6 linked regions of the Homo sapiens genome follow. The protein of the gene in region 1 purifies or fractionates together with the protein of each later gene. This does not show direct contact. Each region holds a gene or a part of one and is shown in the gene's direction. Other genes may lie near its edges.

Evidence for each region.
Region 2: the proteins of RPIA (region 1) and WARS2 fractionate together in Homo sapiens (co-fractionation; one large-scale study listed by BioGRID). This does not show direct contact.
Region 3: the proteins of RPIA (region 1) and POTEE purify together in Homo sapiens (affinity purification with mass spectrometry; one large-scale study listed by BioGRID and IntAct). This does not show direct contact.
Region 4: the proteins of RPIA (region 1) and TTC4 purify together in Homo sapiens (co-immunoprecipitation; one large-scale study listed by IntAct). This does not show direct contact.
Region 5: the proteins of RPIA (region 1) and PEPD fractionate together in Homo sapiens (co-fractionation; one large-scale study listed by BioGRID). This does not show direct contact.
Region 6: the proteins of RPIA (region 1) and CELF1 fractionate together in Homo sapiens (co-fractionation; one large-scale study listed by BioGRID). This does not show direct contact.

The regions. Positions count from the first base shown.
Region 1 is NC_000002.12:88,747,173-88,750,672, forward strand, and holds part of RPIA (ribose-5-phosphate isomerase), read left to right. Parts: intron 1-2,808; coding exon 2,809-2,906; 3' UTR 2,907-3,500. UniProt on the Homo sapiens protein: Catalyzes the reversible conversion of ribose-5-phosphate to ribulose 5-phosphate and participates in the first step of the non-oxidative branch of the pentose phosphate pathway.
Region 2 is NC_000001.11:119,134,154-119,137,653, reverse strand, and holds part of WARS2 (tryptophan--tRNA ligase, mitochondrial isoform 1 precursor), read left to right. Parts: intron 1-3,500. UniProt on the Homo sapiens protein: Catalyzes the attachment of tryptophan to tRNA(Trp) in a two-step reaction: tryptophan is first activated by ATP to form Trp-AMP and then transferred to the acceptor end of tRNA(Trp).
Region 3 is NC_000002.12:131,216,036-131,219,535, forward strand, and holds part of POTEE (POTE ankyrin domain family member E), read left to right. Parts: intron 1-1,553; 5' UTR 1,554-1,648; exon of another isoform or gene 1,649-2,274; 5' UTR 2,275-2,367; coding exon 2,368-2,888; intron 2,889-3,500.
Region 4 is NC_000001.11:54,729,361-54,732,860, forward strand, and holds part of TTC4 (tetratricopeptide repeat protein 4), read left to right. Parts: intron 1-2,125; coding exon 2,126-2,340; intron 2,341-3,500.
Region 5 is NC_000019.10:33,410,292-33,413,791, reverse strand, and holds part of PEPD (xaa-Pro dipeptidase), read left to right. Parts: intron 1-148; coding exon 149-217; intron 218-2,042; coding exon 2,043-2,120; intron 2,121-3,500. UniProt on the Homo sapiens protein: Dipeptidase that catalyzes the hydrolysis of dipeptides with a prolyl (Xaa-Pro) or hydroxyprolyl residue in the C-terminal position.
Region 6 is NC_000011.10:47,473,133-47,476,632, reverse strand, and holds part of CELF1 (CUGBP Elav-like family member 1), read left to right. Parts: intron 1-1,111; coding exon 1,112-1,297; intron 1,298-3,401; coding exon 3,402-3,500. UniProt on the Homo sapiens protein: RNA-binding protein implicated in the regulation of several post-transcriptional events. Involved in pre-mRNA alternative splicing, mRNA translation and stability.

The DNA.
Region 1 (3,500 bases):
GTTCCCAGGGGGATTATGGCTGCCTCTTCTGCGTCATACAGGCTGCCAGGGAAGTAGGAGAAAGCCGGCAGTGACAGACCCCCACCCAGCTGCCACACAGCCAGCAAGGCCAGTTTCACTCCCGCCATGCCCCACCATGGTGAGCAGGGCTGAGATCTTGCCCCAGACTACAGGCCTCCCTACTGAGAAAGCAAGCAGGCCTCTCAGGCCTCGCCCCTCCCTGCCTGCCTGCACCTTCGGCTGTGGGTTCTTCATTTGTATCTGCACTTCCCATTTGTCCCCCACCGGATTCTGCTCAGGAAAATTTGTGCTCAGTTGAAATTATTACGAAGTTCAGCTAGAAGCTTCCTTCATCCTGTGGCCCCTCCCCAGTTCTGCTGGCTGCCTTTTTTTCCCGAAGGACCCCTGTGAGATAAAGCCAGGGATGGCTTCCCTGGGCTCAAGCTGGGGACTGGAAGTGTCTACAGGGCTCTTCCTGCTGCTGCTTCTACTTTTATAGTTTGCTCAGCTCTCTAAATCCATTTCAGCTCTAGGTAAGATTAAATCCGTCTCCTGTGATCTGGATTTTTCAGGTTCCCCGGTGGGGATGTATGTTCAGAGGCAGACTTTTCCCCCTCTCACACTTTGGGAACTCACAGTTTTTTGGCTGTCTTATGGAGTTTGCAGCAGCAAGCCACTTCTTTCAAAGGGTCTGTGAATTCTTTTGGTTTTCCTGGTATGTTCCTGTGGTGGTTCTTGGAGCAAAAGTTCACAATGTGTGTCTCCACACACTGTTCTGTCTGTCCAAGTGGGTGCTGCACATTAATCCTGTCTTCTATTGCCATTTTCCTGCAAGTTTTCATTGTATTTATCCTTTTGAATTTGTGTAGTTTAAAATTATGAGTTAAACAGTGGCAAGTCCTCTTTGCCACTTTTCCAACCAACTAGTTACCCTATCTGGAGGCAGCCAGTGTTACCAAAATTGTGTGGCCTTTGAGATAGACTTTCATAAACACACAAATTGCAACTCCTCCCGCCCCACCCCTTTTTACACTAGCGGTAGCCTGCTTTATACATGTTCTGTTTCCTGCCTTGCCTGTCTTGGAGATTATTACACATTGGCTTATAAAAGAGCTTCCTTGTTCCTTTTTTTTCTGAATACCTGCATGTATTCCACTTTACCTATGTAACATTATGACTTAACTGGATCACCACTAGTGGTCATTTATGTTTGCAGATTTTTGCTAGCAGGGAATCACTGGATGAAAGGATTAATGTGTCTGTGATTTTTGTTAGATGGTTTCAGATTGCCGTCTGTAGCTTGTATTCACTTAGCCTTCTACCAACAGTGTGTGCAGGTATCTGTTTCCCTGCATACCTGGTCCATTATACCTTTTCTCTTACAGTTAAAGTGTTATGTCATTGAAGTATGTGTGAGTATATGTAAATATTCTTGGTAAAGGTTGTGTGTAGTTGTTAATTTTCACTGCTGAATCATATTCCATCATCTGTATGTGTGTGAAAAAAAGTTTATATCTATTCTACTCTTTTAGTTTTTTCTCTTTCTTTCTTTTTTTGGAGACAGGATCTTGCTCTGTCACCCAGGCTGTAGTACAGTGGCATAATCATGGCTCACTGCAACCTCTGCTCCTGGGCTCAGGCGATTCTCCCACCTCAGCCTCCTGAGTAGCTGGGACTGCAGGCATGTGCCAGCATGCTTGGCTAATTTTTGTATTTTTTGTAGAGCTGCCATCTCTATGTTATGTTTCCCAGGCTGGTCTCGAACTCCTGGGCTCCATCAGCTCCATCTGGAGCTCCATTGAACTCCTGGGCTTCATTCCCAAAGTGCTGGGATTATAGGCATGAGCCACCATACCCAGCCTCTATTCTACTCTTGATGGACATTTGGGTATTATCAGTTTTTAGCTAATAGGAAAAGTGCCACTATCAACATCTTACACATGTCTTTTGATGACCAAATGTATGCCTAACAGTTGTATATCTAGGAGTAGAATTGCTGAGTGGTTAGGTGTGAATCCATCAGCTTGGAAGATGAACATTTCCAAAGTGCTTTTGCCAGCTCAGCTTTCACCATCAATGCGTATGAGTGTCTTTGCATCCCAGCAGAATTTCATTACACTGACTTCAGTGTGTGTGTAGTGATATCTTGTAATATTAATTTGTATTTCCTTTCAGTGAATGATTTTGAGCATCTTTTAAAATGTTTATTGGCCATTTTGGGTAGCTTCTTTTGTGAGGTACTTCTTCAAGTCTTTTGCCCATTTTTCTATGGGGATTCTGTCTTTTTCTTGATGATTTATAAATTGTTTATATTTTTGATATGAGTCCTTTGTCAGGTATATGCTTTGCAAATATCTCCTCCCATTCCGAGGAAATCTTTCAAGGCTGGTGGTATGATTGAAAATAACTGGTAGTGGGGCTCCTTGGCTGGAGTAGTCATGGAGGGTCTCTAGAGGATGACTTGCCATCTGATATGTCTGAAGGACAGAGCTGAGCCAGCCCCTTGAAGTGCTTGACAATGACTGGCTCAGGCAGAGGGAACAGCATGAACAAAGGCCTCAGGGCAGGACAAAGCTTAGCATGTTTGGGTACAGAAAGAAGGCCAAAGTGGGAGGGGAGAAAGAGGTGGCAAGAAGAAATTAAGATAATCAGAATCTCTTTTCATTGCTCTGTGGGAGAAAAAGGCTTTAGATTTGTCATTCGTCCAATGCTGTGTATGACAGTTGCTTCTAGTGACCCTGCAGTCTTTGAGTCTCTTTTTGCTTTGGGAGGCTGAAACAATGTTTCTTTCTGTCCTTTGTCCTGCAGGTGTGGTGGACACAGGCCTATTCATCAACATGGCTGAGAGAGTCTACTTTGGGATGCAGGATGGCTCAGTGAACATGAGGGAGAAGCCTTTCTGTTGACCCTGCAAGGAGCAGAGTGTGTTCACCTTGAGTCTCCAGCCCACAGCCAAGGTGGACGTACCTCTCCAGGAGCCTTTGCCTTAATGTATCTCTGCCTGGACAACTTGTGGTGGGGGGTGGGGGGAAGAGTGGGAGGGGGAGTTAAATCCAGTCTTATGAAGTATTGTTATTAAATGTCTTTTTAAAAAGAGAAATATAAACATATATTTTTACTATTAAAATATTCAGTTTTTTAAATGAAGTAGAACTTGAGTTCATGTTTTATATGAAATATTTACCAAAAAAAAAAAATGAGGTAAACTGTATTTAAAACCTTTGACTTGAGTCTGCTGGTAAAGCTTCTGAATATTGAGTTTGCTGAGAAATAAAAATCAAAACTTCTTTAAGCTGGTAAAGTGAGGGGCCCACCAGCAGTGATCTCCTGATGCCTTACTGGAAACTTTGTTTACTTGTCTGCTACCCTCTGATTTGTTTTTAGTTAGTTTTTATTGTGAGCACACATAGTACCTAGTTACATCTTAAGATCAGGTTTATAAAACTGTGGAGTGGAGCGGTATGGTATGGAATGACTTGGAATGTAAGCTGTCAGGGAGA
Region 2 (3,500 bases), on another chromosome or scaffold:
GTTTAAATGTTGATGGTATTAGGTAAATTTAAGCCTGTCATCATTGGCCAAACACAGAATCCATACTTCTTTAAGCACTAAGTCATGATTGTATTGTGCAAAGAGTGAAATATTGATGGTTAGTAGATTTTTGCAAAAGTATTTGTTATTCAGTTGAAGTATGATAAAGTGTCCACATTTTATTGCAGTTGAACATGTTTCATTATTAGCGGTTCCTAGTCTGGGTTTGGCCAGTATTCACATAATGTTCTTGCTGTTAACTATCGCTAAGTATAGCCATTAGATGAAGAATTACGCCTAAAAAGAAAAAAAGCGTGGTTTAAAATTTTTGACCCTGTATTTAATTCTCACAAGATTTAAATTTTTTTAATTTTAAAATAATTTTAGATTTACAGAGTTGCAAAATTAGTACAGAGAATTTCTGTATACCCTTCACCAAGCTTTGTCTTGAATAATCATAATACAGTTATCAAAATCAAGAAATTAATATTGGTACAATAATAGTAATTTAGCTACAGACTTAGTTCAAATTTCACTAGTTTTTTCACTGTCCCTTTCCTTAGTCCAAGATCAAATCCAGGGTCCCACAATGCATTTAGCTTTCATGTCTCTTCTAATGCATACATTTTCTCCTTCATGACCTTGGCACTTTTGAAGAGAACCAGTCAGTTATTTTGTAGAATGTCTCTCAGTTTAGGTTTGTCTGATTTTTCTTTGTGTTTAGACTGAGGTTATGGATTTTTGGCAAGAATACCACGAAGAGATATTGTTCATAACAAGGCCTTGAGGCAGGTATTGCCACCTTATTTCAAACGTGAAGAAATAGTCTTTGGTTAAGTAACTTGCCCAATGTCACACAATGGTGGAATTAGGATCGTAAGATTTAATGTAGGCATTTCATTCCATATTTTGCAATTAGTATTTGTTATTGTAGGTTTCTGGAATGTTAATGACATTAAATTGGCATAGTGTTCCCACTGACTTTTAGCTTTTCTCTGCCATGTATTGTTCATGCAACATGCAACATGAGCTAATCAGCATGGTATGTGTTCAAGAGCTACTACAATCATCTGGGAATTTTGCTAGTTGATTACTCTGCCAGTTTGATGAGGTTACTTCATCTCTCATGGCAAAAAAAGGTGTTGCGTGGATCCACTCTAAAGCTCCTTTTAATCTCAGTCGGTGAGTCTTATTTGTTTAAAGTGCTTTTGTGGTTGGTTGCTTTTGTGAACTGACCTAGTTTATTAAAATGATAATAATATTTAAATTCTTTGCAATATAGCTTTGAGGAGCTAATGAAAACTACTGATAGTAACTGTTGAAAATATAGAGGAAGGAAGAACTGTAGCTGAATGCTGAGGATTTATGCTAGCAGATAGTACGGCAGCCATGGCCTGGAAATGCTGAAGAGAGTGATGCTGCTGACCTCCAAATTCTTGCTCAGTATATCTTTCGAATGACTGCAAGTTACAGAAGAGCTGTCTGCAGAAGCTTCTACAACTATATGTACACACACACACACACACAGACAAATATATATTTTTTATACAAATTTATTTATTTATTTATTTAAACATCTATTGGCCAAGCACGGTGGCTGACGCCTGTAATCCCAGCACTTTGGGAGGCCGAAGCAGGTGTATTTCTTGAGCTTAGGAATTTCAGACCAACCTGGGCAACATAGTGAGACCTTGTCTCTATAAAAAATTCAAAAAATTAGCTGGGCTTAGTGGCATATGCCTGTAGTCCCAGCTAGTCAGGAGACTGAGGTAGGAGAATCACCTGAGCCCAGGAAGGCTTCAGTGAGCAGCGATTGTGCCACTACACAGTTAAGATCCTGTCTGAAAAACCAACAAACAAAAAAACCCCAAAACCCATCTCTCTCTCTCTCTCTATCTCTCTATCTATCTATCTATCTATCTATCTATCTATCTATCTGTCTATCTAATCTATCTATCTCTATATTCCATGTCTTTCAGAAAAGGAACTAACAGCTAGTGCCTGCTATGTGCTAAAGTCTCATGGTATGTGTTTTACATACTTTATCTTATTTACTTCATACAACAATTTGTAAATATTATTCATCCCATTTTATAAAAGAGGAAACTAAGATTCAGAGAGTTTAGGTAATTTTCCCAAGTCACAGAGTAAGTAAATAGCAGTGACACAGTTCAAACCTAGTCTTGCCTATGCTTTTCCCACCTTACCAGTAGTCTTTTATCAAATGAAATCTTACATGAATCCCTGTTATATAAAACAGATAAAAGCAAAGCTTTTCTGATTTAAGAAGCAGAGGAGTATTTTTAGCCCTGCTTGTTTGATTTCCCTCTCCCCCATTACCCGCCCCACTCCACAACCCAGGGGCTCCTGAGACAGTGCCACACAATTTTGGATTTCTTAAGATGTAGTTTGAAAAATACTGCAGCTTCCATAAATATCTAAGTAAGTTTGTTGATCAGGACCACATATGATGGATGGATTATTTTTAAGGAGCTGCACCGTAAATGAGTGGTTTGAGAGTATTTACTTTGATGTGTATATATTTTATAACTACAATACAGTATTCTATTGATCTTAAGCTACATAAGAGTACATGAGATAATAGCAGTCAAACAACTTTCTTTCCTTTTCTTGCCTTCTTTCTTTTTTACAGCTTACTGCTGCCAAACATGCTGATCTTTGTGCCCAAAGATAATGCTTTGGATTCAGTCTGTCACTGTTGTAACTAACCTAGCCTCTAGCCTCCTCACAGAGAACACTTACTCTAGTTCTTTTCTTGACTCTATTCTAATACCACCATTCAAGAGTTCAAGAGTTTCTCTTCTGAAGATTACAATATGAGGCCTAAATCTTTCTCCTAAATTTCAACAGAGAAATTTACTCCTTTAGGGTAGAAGCTGCTCAGCCACACTGTGAGACCCTAGATGCCTAGAGATAATTTATAGGCACAGAGATGATATGCTGACTCCAGCTTGACTTAATTTAACTCTGCTCAGGCATTTAGTTTTCTCTCTCTACCATTTCTTGACAATATTCTATCTTTTTTTTCTCCAGTTCAGAGGCTTCACAGATTTCCTGAACTTCTCTGCTTACTGAGCATAGCAAGGTCATTTATAGGTCCTTGCACTGACCCATCACCTGAGTTCTGTTAGGTTTCTACTCATTAACCAAAATTCATCTGTAGCTTTCTTTTTTTCTTGCCACACAGTCTTCTGTTTTTTTTCTAGAGCTACTGCTCCATTTCTAATTGAGAAAGTTCTAATTGAACCGACTTCTGGTTGACTAAAGAACTGTTTTTTGTTTTTGTCTTTGTTTTTTTTTTTTTTTTTTTTTTGCCCCTTTGCCTCCTAAAAAGCAGAGTGAAGCCAATCTGATTTTTAATTCATGGATATTCTTACAACTTCCACTTCTACATCTTTTGCATTCTTTGTGGATGCACCAAACAGCATGCAAGAATGTCAGTTTCTCCTTCACATTCTTATCTTCATGTTCTGATTGTG
Region 3 (3,500 bases), about 42 Mb from region 1:
ACCAATGACAAACTGTTATCTGAAAAATAAGGTAATTCCATTTATAATAGCAACAAAACAAATATATAAGTAAATCAAAGAGCAAGGAGTAATTTTAATGAAGGATGTGAACGATTTGTATACTGAAAATTATAGCACATTGATGAAAGAAATTGAAAGTGACAAATAGAAAAAGTCCTATATTTGTCAACTGAAAAAATTAATATTGTCAAAATTTCAATGCTACTCAAAGCATTCTACAGATTAAATGCAACCGCTGTCAAATTCCAATGTCATTCTTCACAGAAATAGAAAAATTAGTCCTAAAATCTGAATGGAACCACAAAAGATGCTGAAAAACCAAAGCAATCTTTAGCAAAAAGAACAAACCTGGAGGCATCAGACTACCTAATCTTTGACAAAGCAAACAAGAAAATGGGAAAGGACACCCTATTCAACATATGCTGCTGGTATAATTGGCAAGCCACATGCAGAAAAATGAAGCCGTTCTTCAAAGGTTAAATACAGAATTACCACATGACTCAGTAAATTCACTCCTATGTATACACCAAAAATAAATTAAAACAAATGCCTTACACATAAAGGTATTTATAGCAACAAAAAGTAGGAAACAACAGAAATGTCCATGAATTTTGGAGTGGATTAATAAAATGTGGTCTGTCCATAAAATAAAATATTACTTGGCAATGAAAAAGAAAAACATATTAATACATGCTCCAAAAAGGATGAACATTGAAAACATGATAAATGAAAGTAGTAAGTCACACGTAACTATATTATTATGATTCCACTTACATGAAATGTCCAGAATAGGCAAATCCTTCCAGAATAGGCAAATTCTTAGGAAGTAGATGGATGATTGCCTAGGGCTGGGAGAGGTTTAAAGGAAGAATGGGGAAAATAGGGAAAGATTGCTAATGGGTGCAAAGTTTCTTTTAAGGAGCATAAAAATGTTCTAAAATCGTGGTGATTGTTTAACTAGTTAATACACTTAAAAAACTGAATTTTATACTTTAAATGAGTGAATTAAATAATATATAAATTGTATCTCAATGAACCTGTGAAAAAAGTTAAAAAATATGTGGTATGCATAAACAAAAAGTTCTTCATTTTATTTCCTAGGGTTTTGGGGAAAAGGTGGTGTTTGATTATATGAGTAAGTTCTTTAGAGGTGATTCAGGAGATTTTGGTGCACCCAACACCTGTGCAGTATACACTGTATACACTGCACCGGGGCAGGAGCTGGCTGCAATCCTGTGGCCCCAAATGCCCCCTTGCTGATGGCCTCGTGTTCTGGGTGCGGAGCAAAGAGGAGCAGGTGTTGAAGGCACCTCAGGCAGGCCCTGGGCTCGGTGGGCGTCTTGTGCTCCGCGATTTTGAGGCCATTTGCAGCCAGCTCCGTCAGCCCGAGCTCCCAGCTGCAGCTGCTGCCATGCACAACAGCACCGCCAGGAGTGTCCTGGGGGCTTTTTTCAAAGGAGGCTGTCAGCATCCTCAAGTTCCAGACGCTTAGCCCCAGTCCTCCTTTAAGAGGCTTTTTTTTTTTTCACCAGAGGCTTCTCAGTGGCTTGAAAGCTCAGCTGACTCCCACGAAGTTTGCCGGAACTCAAGGCTGTCAGTGACATTCGTGGCGCCAAGACTTAAGCAGGCGCGTTGCATGCATCGGCCAGTGTCTGTGCCACGTGCCCTGACGCCACCTGAGATAAGCACGCCGCACGCCGCACGCCGCACGCGCACGCCGCACGCGCACGCGCACGCCCGGCAGCAGCTTGCTGGCTTGTAACGGCTTGCACGCGCACGCCGCACGCGCATAACGGTTTGGCCGGCCTGTAACGGCTTGCACGCGCACGCCGCACGCGCGTAACGGCTTGGCTGGCCTGTAATGGCTTGCACGCGCATGCTGCACGCGCTTTAACGGCTTGGCTGGCCTGTAGCGGCTTGGCTTGGCTTTGCGTTCTTGGCTTGGCTTGGCGTTGGTAGCTTGGATTGACGTTTCCTGCTTGGATTGACGTTTTCTCTCTCGTGTTCCTTTGCTGGGCTTGACCTTTTCTCTGCTGGGTTTGGCATTCCCTTGGGTGGGCTGGGTGTTTTCTTGGGGGCGGGGGTTGGCCCTTTCTGGGGTTGGCCCTTTCTGGGGTGGGCGTGGGGTCGCCCAGGGGGGGCGTGGGCTTTCCTCGGGTGGGTGTGGGTTTTCCCTGGGTGGGGTGGGCTGGGCTGGAATCCCCTGCTGGGGTTGGCAGGTTTTGGCTGGGATTGACATTTCTCTTCAAACAGATTGGAAACCCGGAGTTACCTGCTAGTTGGTGAAACTGGTTGGTAGACGCGATCTGTTGGCTACTACTGGCTTCTCCTGGCTGTTAAAAGCAGATGGTGGTTGAGGTTGATTCCATGCCGGCTGCCTCTTCTGTGAAGAAGCCATTTGGTCTCAGGAGCAAGATGGGCAAGTGGTGCTGCCGTTGCTTCCCCTGCTACAGGGAGAGCGGCAAGAGCAACGTGGGCACTTCTGGAGACCACGACGACTCTGCTATGAAGACACTCAGGAGCAAGATGGGCAAGTGGTGCCACCACTGCTTCCCCTGCTGCAGGGGGAGTGGCAAGAGCAACGTGGGCGCTTCTGGAGACCACGACGACTCTGCTATGAAGACACTCAGGAACAAGATGGGGAAGTGGTGCTGCCACTGCTTCCCCTGCTGCAGGGGGAGCGGCAAGAGCAAGGTGGGCGCTTGGGGAGACTACGATGACAGCGCCTTCATGGAGCCCAGGTACCACGTCCGTGGAGAAGATCTGGACAAGCTCCACAGAGCTGCCTGGTGGGGTAAAGTCCCCAGAAAGGATCTCATCGTCATGCTCAGGGACACTGACGTGAACAAGAAGGACAAGCAAAAGAGGTAACCAGGCCTGGGCTGGGAGGAGGTGGGACGTGGGGGGATGATGGGGACATACCCTCCTGGCGGGGGAGGAGGGGGACCTGGCTTTCTCGCCTCCGCAGGCCTCACACCACCCTGGATGTGGAAACCTCAGAGAGGTCAGGGTACAGGGCCCTTTATGAACAGCAACACAAAAACAAAACTTTAGCTGATTTCCAATCATAATTTCCCTCATAGAACACTAATAGACTGTTTTAAAGTGATTTAACTTGCAAAATTAATTAAGTCAATGCAGCAGATTATTTTTAATCTACAGATTTTAAAACAATGTTCTATACATTATAGAAAAGTGTATATTGAGAACTAAGAACAAAGCCCCATAACACATCAACTTCAGGGCTAAATATTCTTCAAATAAAATCCAGTATGGATTTTATATCAATGTACAGTATGTAAATATGTTCTTTACTGAGGAACCTTAGAAGGAAACTGAAATGGGAAGATGGTTCCTGTGCTTGAACAGGAAGATTGAATTTTCTTAAGATGTGAGCTTTTTGGCTGGGCGCGGTGGCTCACGCCTGTAATCCCAGCACTTTGGGAGGCGGGCGGATCACGAGGTCAGGAGATCGAGAC
Region 4 (3,500 bases), on another chromosome or scaffold:
TTTGGGTTAAGTGTTATTTAAGCTTCACAGTGGCCTTCTGAAATAGGTTGTCTTGCTTCTGTTTTTTTGGATAATAGTTTCAGAGAGGTGAAGAAACCTTACACAGCTAACATGTGTTAGAGCCGGGTCCTTGCTCTTAACCACTGGGTTGTACAGCATCCTGAGAAAGTCTGACATTTTAGGATGTTGTTCCTATAACAACAACAACAATAACAAAATGCCACCCTGTCTTTCTCTTTTCTGTATTTTGAAATATATATAGTCTGACCCAAATCTTGCTTTAACCTTGATACCTAGGGAGTCACCTGTTTGAGATTGTTTGGTCTTAACAAAGGAGAGAATATCTGCTGGGAGATTATGGGATAGGTTTTTTTTTTTTTTGAGATGGAATGTCTCTCTGTCACCCAGGCTGGAGTGCAGTGGTGCAATCTCGGCTCACTGCAGCCTCCACTTCCTGGGTTCAAGCAATTCTGCTTCAGCCTCCCGAGTAGCTGGGACTACAGGTGCACACCACCATGCCCAGCTAATTTTTGTATTTTTAGTAGAGACGGGGTTTCACCATATTGGTCAGGCTGGTCTTGAACTCTTGACCTCAGGCGATCCACCTGCCTTGGCCTCCTATAGTGCTGGGATTATAGGCGTGAGCCACGGTGCCCAACCGGGGTAGGTTTTTTGTTTTATTATTTGTTCAGTTAAATTATGCACCATTTATGTTACTTGTTGACTGTAAGAAACTTAACACTGCTAAAACATACTCCACTATTCCCTCCCCACAACAATCTGTTTACATGTATTAACACGTTAAACAGATTAGAATACTCCAGATTTTCCATCTAATTCTCATTCACAGTGAGGGATTTGTTCGTTTTCTTAATTGTAGAATATGAGATGCCCAGACACCCAGACATTTGCATAAATCCTTTTTTTTTTTTTTTTTGGTTCTCTTCTTTAGTGTAACCCTTCATCTCAAACTTAGCATACATAAGAGTTACTCTCAACAGTACACGAAGCCATGCATGCTGTATTTTACTAATGGTTAAAGGGAGGAGTCAGCAAACTGCAGCCGTTGGAACACAGCCCTGCCTATTTGTTTATGTACTACTTATGGCTGTTTTCACACTACAGTGGCAGAGTTGAGTAGTTAATTTTGACAGAGACCATTGTCCAGAACTCTTAAAATATTTCATATCTAATGCTTTAAGAAAAAGTTTGCTAACCTCCAATTTAGGGGATATCATCAAATCTAATTTTGATTGCATGTCATTTCCCCTCATGTGCTAACCTTAGGCACCCCTGCACACTTACATAAGAGGTGACCCTACTATTTCAGACCCTTAATTTATGCCCATGTCTAGGAGACAGTCAAGATTAAGTCAATGCACACTCTTTCTAGTATTCCATGTCCCAACTAAACTGAAATATTTGACATTTCTTTTTTTTTTTTTTTATCTTTTCTGTCCTTTTGCACTTGCTGCTCGTTGGAGTGGAAGGCTCTTCCTCCCTTCTAAGTGCCCCTCCCTTCCAACTTCTCTGCTTTTCAAAGTCATTGTTCAAGGCCTAGCATATCTCAGTCACCTCCAGCCCCCAAGGCTGAATTAATTATTCCATCGTCTATGGTACTACAACTCCACTTCTTACCTTATATCATCATTATTTCCATAGCTGTCTCACCACTTGATATTGAGCAGAGGCTTGAGGGCAGGTAGCCATGTCTAGTTCTCTGTGACACAGGGTCCAGCACAAGATAGATGCCCAATGAAGGTGAGTTAAGTGGTACCTACTATGTGCCAGGCCTCAGGGATAATGAAGATGGATTGTGTGTAGAGCTGTCCCTCAGGGAGCTCCCATTGTTATGGTGTTTTTTTTTGTTTGTTTGTTTTTTGATGTATTAAAGTTAGTTGTCCATGTTCATTCAGGGTACAGATGAAGAAAATTAAATTAAAAATAAAGTTAGTCGTGCAGCCTGGGCAATATAGTGAAACTCCGTCTCTTCAAAAAATAAAAATAAATAAAAAATAAAAAAATTAGCCAGGCATTATGGTTTCTTTATTTCAGTAAAATGGGTTTGCATCCTCCCACACAATAAGATGTGCATTATGTGTGTGTGTTTCTGTCTTTAACCCAGGCTAGGAATATCAGGCTCTCAGAAGCTGCCTGTGAGGATGAAGATTCAGCCTCAGAAGGTCTAGGTGAGCTTTTCCTGGATGGACTCAGCACTGAGAACCCCCATGGAGCCAGGCTGAGTCTAGATGGCCAGGGCAGGCTGAGCTGGCCTGTGCTCTTTCTGTACCCAGAGTATGCCCAGTCGGACTTCATCTCTGCTTTTCATGAGGACTCCAGGTACTGACTTGCCCAGGAGCCCTCTGCTTTTGCTTGCATGCTGTCTCTGTTTTTGTGGCAGGAGGGACGAGTGGATTTTTGGTTGAGAAGGGAAGATAATGGTTTAGAGGGTTTCACACCATCTGGTTTGATAATAACCTCTCTATCCTGTAGCTGACTGAACCTTGACTAACTAGGTTTGCAACGACAGACAAAAGTCTCATCGTCATACTAACTGGGCTAGTACATGCAACACCACAGTATTGTGTTTGCCAAAGAGTGGTACACATCACTGGTGAAATAGGAAGTCATTTTAGGTAATACATGCATAGCAATTTAAGTGAATATTAATTAGAAAAAAAAATATAGAGGCTGGGCGCTGTGGCTTATGCCTGTAATCCCAGCACTTTGGGAGGCCGAGTCAGGCAGATTACTTGAGGCCAGGAGTTCGAGACCAGCCTGGCCAACATGGTGAAACCCAGTCTCTACTAAAAATACAAAAAATTAGCTGGGCATCTGTAATATCAGCTACTCAGGAGGCTGAGGCATGAGAATCACTTGAACCTGGGAGGTGGAGGGTGCAGTGAGCCGAGATCATGCCACTACACTCCAGCCTGGGTGACAAAGCAAGACTCTGTCTCAAAAAAAAAAAAAAATAAAAAAGAGATATATGTATGTCTTTGATAGATATGTATATATATCAGACTTAACTTGTGATTTCATAGGGTTAATGTGTAGAATGAGTCTAAGTGTAAGAGTGTAAGAAAAGTTTTTTTGTAATTTTTTTTTTTTTTTTGGAGACCAAGTCTCGCTCTGTTGCCCAGGCTGGAGTGCAGTGGCATGATTATGGTTCATCACAGCCTCCAGCCCCCAGGCTCAGGTGATCCTCCTGCCTCAGCCTCTCAAGTAGCTGGGACTACAGGTGAACATCACCACATCTGGGTAATTTTTTAATTCTTTGGTAGACACAGAGTCTCTCTATGTTGCCCAGGCTTGTCTTGAACTCCTGGGCTCGAATGTTCCTCCCACCTCGGCCTCCCAAAGTGCTGGGATTTACAGGCATGAGCCACTGCACCCTACCAGAAATGTTTTTAACCTTGAAGCTGTTTAAAGAAAATTATGTCAGCTGGGCATGGTGGCTCATGCCTGTAATCCCAACACTTTGGGAGGCCAAGACAGGA
Region 5 (3,500 bases), on another chromosome or scaffold:
CACAGACTCACACTGAGAGTTTGGACCATTGTGGGGCCACGGCAGGGGAGACCATGGGCCGAGGGCCTTCCCTTGGGGTTCATGGGGCTCGTGGAGTGGGGTGTGCCTGCTCTAGTGCCCCAACCCTGACGCGTCTCTCCCCCTGCAGCCTCTTCGAGCACTACTGCTACTCCCGGGGCGGCATGCGCCACAGCTCCTACACCTGCATCTGCGGCAGGTAAGCGGGGCACCCTGGCTCCCCTGGGGGTGACCAGTGGGAGGAGGTAGGGCAGTTAGTGAGTGGGGGGCTCCACCATCCCCCAGCTCAGCCACACTTGCTCACTCACACGCCCACACCAGCGCCCGGCCCAAGCTTGGAAGTCGCTCCTCCCTCCCAAGACTCCCGGAGCTGAGGTGGCCTCTGCCTGCAGGACCTGGCACTGGGTGAAGGAGGGAGCATGGCCTGCCCACTGCAGAGGGGCTGCTTGGCGTCCCCTCCCTCCTGTCCCCAGCTGGTCAGCACAGCAGCTAAGCACAGGAAGGCCACTCCTCCACACGGGCACACACACAGCATGTGGGGACCGGGCTGTGAGCTCAGGCTGGGCAGCTTCTGTGTGCAGCAGGGGTGGAGTGTGGAAGGGTCAGTGCAGAAAGTGGTGGTGGTGTGTCTATGTGGGTGTGGCTGCGTGGGGACCAGTGCTGCTGTATGTGGGTGTGCATGTCACTGTTGGTGTGCCTGCTCGTGGCACATGGTGCCGAGGGGCAGGGCTCTGTGTGGGTGTGTGCGCTTGGGTGTGTGCCATCAACACCTGGCTGGGTGTGCTTGGAGGCACACACATGGTAGAAATGACAGTGATATGGGATCATTGCCATGCTGTGTGGGCCATGCACAGCGGCATGTGTCCCTTGGGGTGTGTCTGCCCCCACATGCGTCCTGGCTGTGGGCGTGGCCCCCTCGTCTCCTGCGCTCTCCCAGCCAGTCTCCCTGCTCTCTGCCCCTCGGGTCTGGCCCCTGCCCGGCCAGGATGGAGCCAGGCAGCTCTGCCAATGCGCACGTCCCCGGCACATGAATAATACATGTGAAATCTCAGTCCTTGGAAATGTTCTTCTCTGGTGGATGGAGAGAAAACCATTATTTCTACTTTTATGATTCCCAAGACTCCTGAGCAGGGCCATAAATATTACACCCAGGTGGGGGTTTCCTTCCCCCCTTTGGACAGACTTAAAAGTCCTTTTTTTCTTAAAGGCATCGCTCATTAGGGAAGCCTTCTCAGGCAGAGGAGCGAGGATCCTCTTGGTTTCCTCTCTCTCCAGCCTGGTCAGGACGCCAGGGCAGCTCCAGGACAGCCGGGGCCCTTTCCATAGAGGCCCTCTCCCCTTTGGCCACCAGGAAAGGAGGGGTTCCGTAGGGCCCTTCTCCAGGCCCAGGAACTGCTGTTCCCCTTTTTTGCTCTTTTTTTAATTTAAAGACAGGGTCTCCCTCTTTTGCCCAGGCTGGAGTGCGGTGGCATGATCATAGCTCATTGCAGTCTCCACTTCCCAGGCTCAGGTGATCCTCCTAGCTCAGCCTCCTGAGTAACTGGGATTACAGCTGTGAGCCACCTAACCCAGCTAATTTTTTTTGCATTTTCTGTAGAGGTAGGGTTTCGCCATGTTGCCCAGGCTGGTCTCGAACTTGTGGGCTCAAGTGATCTGCCTTTCTTGGCCTCCCAAAGTGCTGGCATGACAGGCGTGAGCCACCACACCCGGCCCATTGCTAAGTTTTACATGTGTTCCACATGATGCCCACATCCCAGCCCAGAGGGCAGCCGCCTAACGACGCCTTCAGCCAGGAGGCTCTGCCTGCAGACTGAGGCTGGTTGCCAGCCATGTGACTGCGGGGTGACAGGGCCACCATGTCCCCCGGCCTTACCTCTGGCTGTGGACCTGGTCCAGCCACGCCTGGGCCTGTGCTGGAGGTGGGGACAGTGCTGCTCATGGGCAGGGGATCGAGCATCCACCCCCTCCTTCAGAGCCTGCTGCAGAAGAATGGGCTTTGATCACCCTCCCCCGGCTCTTTGCAGTGGTGAGAACTCAGCCGTGCTACACTACGGACACGCCGGAGCTCCCAACGACCGAACGATCCAGAATGGGGATATGTGGTAAGTAGGGCCAGCGGCCCTGGCTCTGTGTGTGAACAGCCAGGCCAAGGTTGGACTCAACTTCAAGATGGCCCAGAAGCCTCTGGGTCCCTGTCCTGAGAGGGCTGACCACAGCAAGTCCCTGGGCTTCTTGGCCCAGACTTCTCTGCCAAGGCTATCGGCCTGCGTGGTGCCTTCTCCAGGGCCAAAAGCCTGCACCCCCCAGGGAGCACTGAGAGAGAGGGTGCAGGAGAGGGGCCCCCGATGGTTTCCTGTGGGCCATGGGATTGTGGGCTCTCTGAGGGGGCCTGAACCATCCCCAGCCTCTGTCCAGGCTGTCCTCTCCGTTCAGGGGGCACCACGCTCGCATCTTTCTGTCTTGGTGCCAGGAGGGCAGGCCTCTTGGTCTGGAGCTGGGAAGACCGCAGGGAGCCTCCCACGCTCTGAAACCTGCCATCCTCCTGCTGCAGGAGCCCGTGGCCTCTGCGGCCCTGCGTTCAGCAAGTCAGCAGTGCTGACCCGTGGCTGCGTGCAGGGCTTTCCTGAGCACGATGTGCCGTGCTCACAGTTCTTCATAGAAGCCACGACAAGGAGATGTGGGCAGGCCCTGCGGCCTCCGCCCCTCGGGTAGTCTTTTCTCTCATTGGAGGACTTGCAGTCCTACCCACAGCCCCTCGGTGTGCAGGGCAGAGCAGCTGGGCCGCTGCCCCGGGGCAGGGAGGAGGTGTGTGAGTACTTGCAGCCTGGCCTCTGCTCAGTCCCTCCGCGTTCTTTGCCTGTGCCCTGCACGTCAGATGTCAGCCAGGGCCAGCCCAGGCAGTGCAGAGCTCCTGAGAGCTACCCCAGTGCTGGAGCCCTGGGGCTCAGCCACAGCCACGCAGGCCCTGTCTTGGCCTCCAGACATTTCACTGTGGTCACTGACTAGCAGAGGATGTGCCTTGTCCCTCCCAGTTCTTTGGTGCCCTTTCTTCTATGGCAGATGCACCCGAACAAGCCTCCTGCAGAGCCCTCTGCCCCCCAGCAGCATGGCATGTCCTCTGAGGCCTGCGTGGCGCCCAGCTGGGCTGCCTCCGCCTTCCCATCGAGGAGCCACCCCAATGTGCCAGCTCCTCCAGCGGGAGTTCCCATGATGGCTGCTCACCGGCCTGGACCCCGCCTCACCCTACAGCAGGTAGTCGTGGGAGCCCACCCCCCAGAGTCCCCAGCCATGCCCACTGAAGGACAGGAACACACATGCCCAGACCTATGGACAGACAACCAGCTGCCCAGAGAGCTGCCGAGCGTTGAGCTGTCAGGGCCGAGTATTTGCAGGAACACACTCAGTCTCGGGGTCCTCCCTGCCCTTGGGCACATGGCCTACTGAGACTGCCCGGGCTCCCCGCTCACCCAGGTCCATAGCTG
Region 6 (3,500 bases), on another chromosome or scaffold:
AACACGGTGAAACCCCGTCTCCCCTAAAAATACAAAAAAATTAGCTGGGCCTGGTGGCGGGCGCCTGTAGTCCTAGCTACTTGGGAGGCTGAGGCAGGAGAATGGCATGAACCGGGGAGGCAGAAGTTGCAGTGAGCCAAGATTGCGCCACTGCACTCCAGCCTGGGTGACAGAGCGAGAGTCCGTCTCAAAAAAGCATGGGATTTTTAAATCAGACCTGAGTTAAATCCCACCTGTGTCCGTTAGCTAGCTATAACTTCGGACCACCTTTCTAAGGACATTTTCTCATCTTTGAAGTGGGAATAATAGAATACTTTGAAGGATTGTTAAAAATTAAATGAGGCCAGGTACAGTGGCTCATACCTATAGTCCCAGCAGTTTGGGAGGCCAAAGCAGGGGATCACCCTAGGTCACAAGTTCCAGACCAGCCTGAGCAACATAGTGAGAACTCCATCTCTACAAAAATTATCTGGGTGTAGTGGTGCATGCCTGTAGTCCCAGCTACTTGGGAGGCTGAGGCCGGGAGGATTGCTTGAGCCTGGGAGCTTGAGGCTGCAGTGAGCTATGATTGTACCACTGAACTCCAACCTAGGTGACAGAGTGAGACTCTGTCTCCAAAAAAAAAAAAAAAAATTAGAACATAGGTAAAGTGCTGCTGAGCACATTGCATAGTACAGTAGATGACACATAGAATGTACTTAGTACCTGTTAGTTGCTGTTTTAATGGTAGGGTTCACCCACATCTTGTCAGAAATCACATGTACCCCTTTGAGTTTGCAGTCTTGGGCCTCTTCTTTTATGACATTCTAGCTCATTATGAGAAAGTGGCAGAATAGCCAGATAGAAAATGGAGGCTCTCATTCCACAGATTGGATGAAGGTAATGGGGAGCACAACACCCGCGTATGGCATTTCTTAATGTCCCCATTAGCAAGGCCTGGTGAATGTCCTGAAATCTAGCCAGTCAGATAGTTTCTTCTCAGGGAGAAACTAAGAGGGAGATAAAGGGGAGAACTTTGGAGTTTTCCCTCTTCTAGATGTCCCAAGTAGACTTGTCTTTGGCATCAGTTTAGTCTTTCTAGTATATTAATCCTTCTCTTCCTCCAACCAAGGAATGGCTGCTTTAAATGGTGGCCTGGGCAGCAGTGGCCTTTCCAATGGCACCGGGAGCACCATGGAGGCCCTCACTCAGGCCTACTCGGGTATCCAGCAATATGCTGCTGCTGCGCTCCCCACTCTGTACAACCAGAATCTTCTGACACAGCAGAGTATTGGTGCTGCTGGAAGCCAGAAGGAAGGTGAGTGCAAAGGGAGATCGGGGTCAGGTATGGGGGGCGGTTTTCCTCCTATACCAGAACGGAAAGGCAGAGCAAAGGCTGAGGGAACCAGTTAGGTCGTCAGACCATTGTTTTTCTTTGACAGTGTCAAGTGTAGACTGAGAAACCCTGTGAAGTGTGATCTGCTTTTTAAATGTTTTCTGGATGTGGCTCAAATCAGAACCTCTGTGTGCCCTCTTGGGATGGGGCTGCAGTTTTTAGATGAAGCAACAGACACTGACCTTATCGGGTCTGACACATTTGACAAGAATGTTTCTGTTAGGAGGTCTTCTCTACAGATTACAAATCTATCAGAGGATCTTCTGTCTGGATGTCTTCTGTTTCAGTGTCCCTTTTAGCTATATCATTTGGCATTTTCCTCACTTTCTGATTGATGTTTGTCCTGATTGAAGACAAACTGAGGGGTGATGGGACAGAGTTTGGCCCATGAGTTGATGGAGTGGGAAGTATGTCGTTTGACACAAATGGTATTCAATTTAGGAGAAAAATAGGAGAGACTCTTTAGCCAGAAAGAGGCCTGAAGGTGACTTACATGAATAGAAGGTCCTGCTGACACCTCTGTGCTCAGATTTGACTGGGTTTTTATAACCAGGAGCTGGTATAAGCACTAATGTAGGAAAAAGATGAGTGTCCTCTTGTCACAGCAGAAAGTCCTGGTTCATCTCTCCTCACCTGCTGTGAATCACTTATATCCCCTAGGGATGTGGTAGTAGGAGAATGTAGCGTGAACCAATATTTTAGTGGAGACTGTGGAGACAGACAATAAATAAATGAAAGCATGAGGTGTTTCAGATGATCCTCTGGAGAATGACAAGCCGGGAAGAGAGATAGGGAGTGTCAGAGGCACTGCATTTTATGCAGAATGCTCAGAGAATGTCTCTCTAGATTGACATTTAAGCAGAGAACTGAAGGAAGTAGGAAGCAAGTCATGCCTGAATCTAGAGAAAGAAGAGTAACAGGGGCATAGGAAAAGCAAGTACAGAGGCCCTGAGGCAGCAATGTTCCCTGATGTGTTTGAAAAAAACAGGGAGGCCAGGGTGGCTGGAGAATGGCTGGACTGCAATTGTAATAAAGCTTTTTGGTTAGAAAATCATTGAGTAGGCTGGGCGCAGTGGCTCGCGCCTGTAATCCCAGCACTTTGAGAGGCCAAGGCAGGCAGATCATGAGATCAGGAGTTCGAGACCAGCCTGACCAACATGGTGAAACCCCATCGCTACTAAAAATACGCCAGGCATGGTGGCGCCTGCCTGTAATCCCAGCTACTCGGGAGGCTGAGGCAGGAGAATTGCTTGAACCCGGGAGGCGGAGGTTGCAGTGACCTGAGTTCACGCCACTGCACTCCAACCTGGGCAACAGAGTGAGCCTCTATCTCAAAAAAAAAGAAAGAAAAAAAAAGAAAATCATTGAGTGTAAATAGTCAGATGAAGAATGTATATTCTGTTTTTAAGCTCAGTGTTAATCATGGGTGCATTTTTAAAACTAATTTCTTATTTTCCCATTTACATATGATGAAACTCACTGATTTTGGCATACAGCTATATGAGTATTGACAAACAGTCCTAGTCCTGCAACCATCACCACAGATTAGGAACATTTCCATCACCCCTAGAAATTCCCTCGTGCCCCTTTGTAGTCATTCCCTGCATCTGGCAACTACCAATCTGTTTGCTGTCCCTGTGGTTTCTAGGCATTATTTGGAAACCTGTTTTGTTTATAACCCCTTTTCACCTCCTCTTCTGTGTTCCTCTCTGAGCCTACAGTCTCTGTTTTCCTGCTCCACACACAAGTCGGCCTGCTTTATTATCCCAACACTCCTCCTCCTGCGGGTAGAATTTCTCACATCCTCAATGAGATGGAGCTTGGCTGAATGTGAGGGAAGGAATCTGTTTTAATGTTTGCCTTTGGTTCCTTGCTTTGTATTTAGAGAATCTGTTTAGTTCCCCAGATGAATCTCTGTTTTTAGGGATTGTGACAGTTTTAACATAGGTGGAAATGAAAGATCACTGGTGCAGGGCGACGAGCATGTTTGACACTGATACTTTTCCAATTCCTGGGTATTTTGAAGGTCCAGAGGGAGCCAACCTGTTCATCTACCACCTGCCCCAGGAGTTTGGTGATCAGGACCTGCTGCAGATGTTTATGCCCTTTGGGAATGTCGTGTCTG